2 separate regions of the Homo sapiens genome follow, and region 2 is linked to region 1. Evidence: fine-mapped expression QTL. A gene starts in region 1. The other region holds a variant in brackets. All regions are shown on one strand. Distances are from middle to middle.

Region 1 (2,898 bases):
CTTCCTAGCTACAGTTGACATCCGGTAACCATCCTTGGTCAGCCACACTTTCTTTCTGCCTCTGCCAAGAGGCTCCCCCTAGCTCCTCATGGGCCACTTTCTGGCTGTGAGCTGATCAGGCAACTTACACAGGGTCACTGGGTCAGAGGACTCTTGAAAGGGGGGTTGGAACATGAAGCCCCATGATTCAGGGATCCTGGGACTTGTTTGTTTTGTAGGGTTAGAGGGATGGAGGAAAATCTTCCAAATCAGCAGCCTCGAATTCACCAAGAATTTCTACAAGATGAATTTGAGTTGAACCTTCAGTCTTTCCACGAAGAAGGTCTGCTCGCCACCCTCAAAGCCATCTGCCTTTCTGTCTCAGTTTATTCACAGATCCTTTCAGAGACCAAAAAAAGCACCCAAGAGAGGCGGGGACAGAGATGTGGTAGAGGAAAAGACACAGTACAAAGAACGCTCCGCAAGCACTTACTTCCTCTGAGCCTTAGGAGTCCTACCTAAAAGGTTTCTTGCTTGTTTTTCTATTACACTGTCACTCCCATCCGGTATGCAAACAGTCGGCAATGCCTACTACAGTAGCTCGCTGGCTGCCAGGTGCAGGGGCTGTTCAAAAGCGACATCAGGGTCCTAAAAGGTGGGAAAAAGCAGCAGAACTTGCATGGTAGTTGATTCTTTCCTGAAGAATAGGGTCCGCCCAGCCCCACCGGGCAGGAGGTGTCCTGAGTCAGCCTGGCGTTCAGCCCAGTGCTGTGCACTTGGGTGACAGGTGGGGCCCCTGCACTGCCACCAGTAGCATATGTCGGAGCTCTGGGCCCTGACCATCTGCCAAAGCTAATCTTACGACAAGCAGATTTGCTCCCATCAATACCCAGGGAGAGGGATAGGCAGGCCCCTTGCTGCGTGATTCTCGAAAACAACCAGGATCCCGCGATCCGCTTCTCCTATGGCTCCAGTCCAAAGGCTGGAATGGGGGCGTCACCTGCACCAGGCAACTTCGCTAGCCTGTGGGCGTTCCAGGGCAGGGGACGGGGGCGGCACCTTCCAGGTGTGCAGGCGAGATGACAAGTGCGGTCCCTCCTTCCTCCCTCCCCGCGAGCAAACAGCCTGGGGGTGGTGGGGAAGGCGGCGTGCCCAGCCCTTCATCGCCCCATTCTTTCCCACGGCCCTGGCCGCCGCTGCAGCTGGGGCGCCACTCTGCACTCACCTGGGCCCGCGCCGGGCGGGGCGAAGTCGCGGTGGTAGGTCCTCGGCGTCCGGGAGGAGCGGACCGGCCCTCCCGGGGACCGGGCAAGAGGGTGGGCCGGAAGCGGCATCAGGCCCCGTGCCCATTGGCCAGCCTCGCCAGGACGCTGCGACCTGGGACGTGCGATTGGCTGCGGTGCGCCGCGTCGGTGCTGGCTTCGAGGTCGCGCGCCCGCCCACTTCCGGGGTCGCGCCAGGTCAGGAGTCCAGAGTCGGCTGAAGCGAGTTGCCGCGTTCTCTCTGGCGGCGCGACACCGGCCCGTGGACCGCCCGGCCGCCCTCCAGGACCCGGTCTGCAGGAGCGGAGAGGGCGGTGTGGACACCGCCTGCAGGCGAGGAGAAGGGGTGGCGGAGAGGGTACCTGGGTGCGTGGCTGTGCGGCGTCAGGAGGAGCAGGGTGTGGGCGCCCGGCCTGGGGCGTGGAGAGGACGCAGGGAACAGGTGTCTTCCTGGTATCCATCGAACTGAAACGTAGCCCTTGAGCACACACTACACTTAAAGCTTTACTCTTTCGAGGAGGAGTCCTGGAAGCATATGTGATTTTGTGACTATAGCATGGTGTGGTGTCAGTAACAGGCCCTGGATTGCTCAAACTCTATTGTCAGTGACAAAACCCAGTGTAAGCTGGCCTAATATATTAATAGTAATATGCGAGTCCTCCCGGGGTGGCGGGCACTGACGTAAGTGCTTTACTTGGGTCTTCTCATTTCATCCTCCCAGCAACCCAAAGAGCTGGCGGCGTCATTCCCATTTTACAAATGCGAACACGGGCTCAGAGATGGAGCGACTCACGTTGTAAGCGATGGAACTGGGATTTGAAAACACTGTATCCCGCCTGGCAGAAAACTGGCAAGGTTAGGATGGAGAAAGGAGAAAAAAGAAAGATGTCGGCCAGGTGCGGCGGTTCATACCTGTAATCCCAGCACTTTGGGAGGCCAAGGCGGGCGGATCACTTGAGGTCAGGGGTTTGAGACCAGCCTGGCCAAGATGGTGAAACCCCGTCTCTAGTAAAAATGCAAAATTAGCCAGGGGTGGTGGCGCATGCCTGTAATCTCAGCTACTCGGGAGACTGAGGCAGGAAAATCGCTTGAACTGGGGAGGTGGAGGTTGCAGTGAGCTGAGATCGTGCCACTGTGCCACCGCACTACAGCCTGGGCGACAAGAGCAAAACTCCTTCTCAAAAAAGAAAAAAAAGGGCATCTGATGGAAGGCTAGATACTACCCGACATTGAGCTAAACCAATGTCACCTGGTTGGACCTAGGGACCTATTCCTGCTCCCCCTCTAGTTCTGTCTCATTTCTGGGGTTGCACACAGGCTTTTCCTGGGCCTTCATGTTTGGGGAAGCCCCACACAGGCCAGCTCCAGTGGAAGAAAACGCCCCCAGAAGCCTCTTGTTCACCCCGGATGGCTCTGTGGAGTCCTGTGTCTGACCCTGACTTTAGCTTGGGCCTGAGGGACTGGCATTTGTGGACTTGGTCTGGAGATGTGGGCAGAGCCCCCCTCAAGCATAAGGGCTCAGCCAGGCACAGGGGGTGGCTCCTCAGAGGAAGATCAGGGTGCTATTAGCAGAAGGACGATGAGTGGGCCGGGCGCAGTGGTTCACGCCTGTAATCCCAGCCCTTTGGGAGGCCGAGGCGGGTGGATCATGAGGTCA
Region 2 (2,898 bases), 35 kb before region 1:
AAACAGACAGGACAGGGTGGTTCCAGGTGGCCACCACCGCCAGGCCCTTCCCGTGATTGATCTGAGAGCTTCACAGCCGGCGGCACTGGGACCCATTTCCAGAAACACTGGAACACCAGGTCTCTCAGATGCCCGCGGGAGGGGCCCCAGGGAGGCCTTTCTCAGCATCAGCTTTTGGGTGACAAACCCCATACAGCAAAACTGTACAAATACACACAACGGACCCCCAGCTGACAGTGAGACCAGGACCCTAGGAAGGTCAGGTGGTGGTGAAGTCATCCCCTCTCCAACCGAGCAGAGCCTGGGGTTGGGCTCTGATGACCTCCCGGGCAAAGTGTCCAGGTGGAGGAAGCAAACTCCCAAATGGGGCACAGAGGTAATAAAAAGCAGCTGAGAGACTGCGGGATGGGGTCGGGGCCACTTGGCCGACACCTTCTGCCTCGCCTGGCCGGGCCGGGCCAGCCTCTCGCCACAGGATGGAGGGTGACTGTGCACCCTGCTCCATGTACAGGACGGGCTGAGGGTCCCATGGCCACTGCCGACAGACACAGTAGTACTGCTCCCCACAGAAGCCCGCAGTCTGCACCCTCCTACAACATGATTTGACATCCAAGAAGCCCCTGTCACCAGCGCATCTGGGGAAGGGGCCGAATGGGGGTTGATGATGGTGACTGCACACACGGACACTGCCTCCAGCCATGGGGCAGCCTCTCATCCTCTCCCAGCCTCCCGTCTGGTACCCCGGCCCCCTCAGGGAAGAGGACATCCCATCCACTCCAGTGTTATTTCCAATCTGCTGTCTCCTTCCTTCACTTTTTTTTTTTTTTTTTTTTGAGATGGAGTCTCTGTCGCCCAGGCTGGAGTGCAGTGGCATGATCTCGGCTCACTGCAGCCTCCGCCTCCCGGGTTCAAACGATTCTCCTGCCTCAGCCTCCCGAGTAGCTGGGATTACAGGCACCCACCACCATGCCCAGCTAATTTTTTTTTTTTTGTATTTTTAGCAGAGATGGGGTTTCACCATGTTGGCCCGTCTGGTTTGAAACTCTTGACCTAGGTGATCTGCCCACCTCAGCCTCCCAAAGTGCTGGGATTACAGGCGTGAGCCACGGCGCCTGGCCTCCTTCCTTCACTTTTGAAATTAAAGCCTCTTTGCAAGTCCTGCTCTGAGAAATGGTCACTGCACATGGTAAAGAGGCCCTGAGCCCCATGGCCATCTCTCTTGGTGAGGGGTGGCGGGCCCGGGTGCTGTCTGAGATGCCAGCTCAGGAGGGCTCCATCCTGGCTCTGCTGCCCCAGGGCCGGCGTTCCCGGAGGGCTCCAGGTTCCCGGTTCTAGTCCTGGAAAGGCAGAAGGGAGAGGGGAAGGGAAGG[G/A]TGGGAGGGGCCTCTGGGAGGTGCAGCCCCACCCCATGCCCCACACCCCGGGACTCCTCGCAGACGGGGACACGTGTGGGAGTGTCCGCGGAGCTTCACATTTCAGGGCCGTCTCAGCCAGTGCCTCTGAAGTGGCCGCAGCCTTGGGGCCAGGTTCCCTCCTGAGTCCACCTGGGCCACATTGCTCCCACGGTGCACACTCCAGCACAAGAATGGCTCAGCCTTGATCCCCCAAACTGGGCACCGTCCCTGCATGTAGGTGTGTGGGGGGGCCTCAGCAGCAGACGGGGCCATGGGCCTCTGGTGGGGCACTCGGCTCCTGCTCCTGGGACGAGCTCCGGGGGGCCCTGGTGGCATTGGCCCGGACAGAGATATGGTCCCAGCCTCCCTGGAAGGAGAGAGCTGTGTCACCAGGGGACTCGGGGACTCGAGGATCCTGGAGGGGATCTGCCTGGGGGCCTCCCTGCAACCCAGACACCGGGTCCCAGGGGACAGTCCCACAGTGGTCGTCCCGTCTTCAGCACCCAGTGCAGGCACAAGGTGATAACACAGCCCAAGGCCGCGGGCCCCGCTCACCCCGATGCCGTAGTCCCAGCCGTGGCCCTTGGGCTCGTGAGGCTGCACGCCGGTGCGATGACACACTGTCCCCCGGCTCAGGCTGTGGCTGCCCTGCACTTTGTTGGCGATCACCCAGACCTGGAGCACAGACCCCATGAAGCCCTCAGCCCTACCTGCAGTGGGACGGCTGGGCATGGGATGGGGGAGACCAGAGAGGGAACCAGAGCACCCCAAGTGCCCGATACCCCCTGAGCACCCCCACCTGGTCCAGGGGCCCCACGGACACTCGGCACACGTTGTTGGACACGTGCTCCCAGCTGGAGCCCTGCGGGTAGCTGGGCGTGATCCCTTGGCGATACCACAGGTTTCCTGGGGAGAAAAGCAGTGAGGGTCAAAGGGGAAGACCTTCCCGGCCCCTCCTGCCCGTGCGGCCCGGCAGCCGGTGGCCAGGCCCCGCTCTAACCACTTCGGGGTTTGGGAAGCTGCTGGGGAGGCAGGAGGGTCCTGGCCCCTGAGTCAGGGCCACAGCCTCCTCCGCTTCTCCACACTCAGGAGCCTGGGCTGCAGCCAGCTCCGCCTTCTGCACACTCGGGGCGTCCCCCGAGCCTCATAATCGCCCTATTGTGCTGGGCACGGCCGGCCTCCTGATCCTCTTTCTGCTGAGGCAGAAACTATGGACAAGGGAAGTCCTAGCCAGAGCAATCAGGCAAGAGAAAGAAAGAAAGGGCATCCAAATCGAAAAAGAGGAAGTCACGGTGTGTCTGTTTGCCCATGATAGGATCAAATACCTAGAAAACCCTAAAGACGCCTCCAAAAGACTCCTAGATTTGACATATGAGTTCAGGAAAGTCTCAGGTTACAAAATCAATGCACACAAATTAGTAGCACTGCTACATGCCAGCAGCAACCAGGCTGAGAATCAAATTAACCCCTTTTACAACAGCTGCAAAAAATAACATAAAATACCTGG

The links. PIP is the estimated chance that this variant, and not a neighbour inherited with it, causes the effect.
Region 2: its variant is fine-mapped to the expression of TECPR1 in whole blood (TOPMed, PIP above 0.99).

The regions. Positions count from the first base shown.
Region 1 is chr7:98,250,922-98,253,819 of GRCh38, forward strand. It overlaps TECPR1 (tectonin beta-propeller repeat containing 1), which reads right to left and starts at 1,311. Exons shown (of 26, transcript NM_015395.3): 1 at 1,205-1,311; 2 at 473-627. LOC124901706 (a long non-coding RNA gene) reads left to right here and starts at 1,438. Exons shown (of 2, transcript XR_007060448.1): 1 at 1,438-1,607; 2 at 1,963-2,898. RefSeq lists an enhancer at 958-1,701 and silencers at 1,018-1,407, 1,498-1,597.
Region 2 is chr7:98,215,746-98,218,643 of GRCh38, forward strand. TECPR1 (tectonin beta-propeller repeat containing 1) reads right to left here. Exons shown (of 26, transcript NM_015395.3): 24 at 2,191-2,297; 25 at 1,947-2,066; 26 at 1-1,758. The coding sequence ends at 1,645. Among named protein-coding and RNA genes, the nearest start is that of BHLHA15, 5.8 kb to the left of the region's middle. RefSeq lists an enhancer at 2,541-2,600. The variant G/A (reference allele first, on the strand shown) is at 1,371.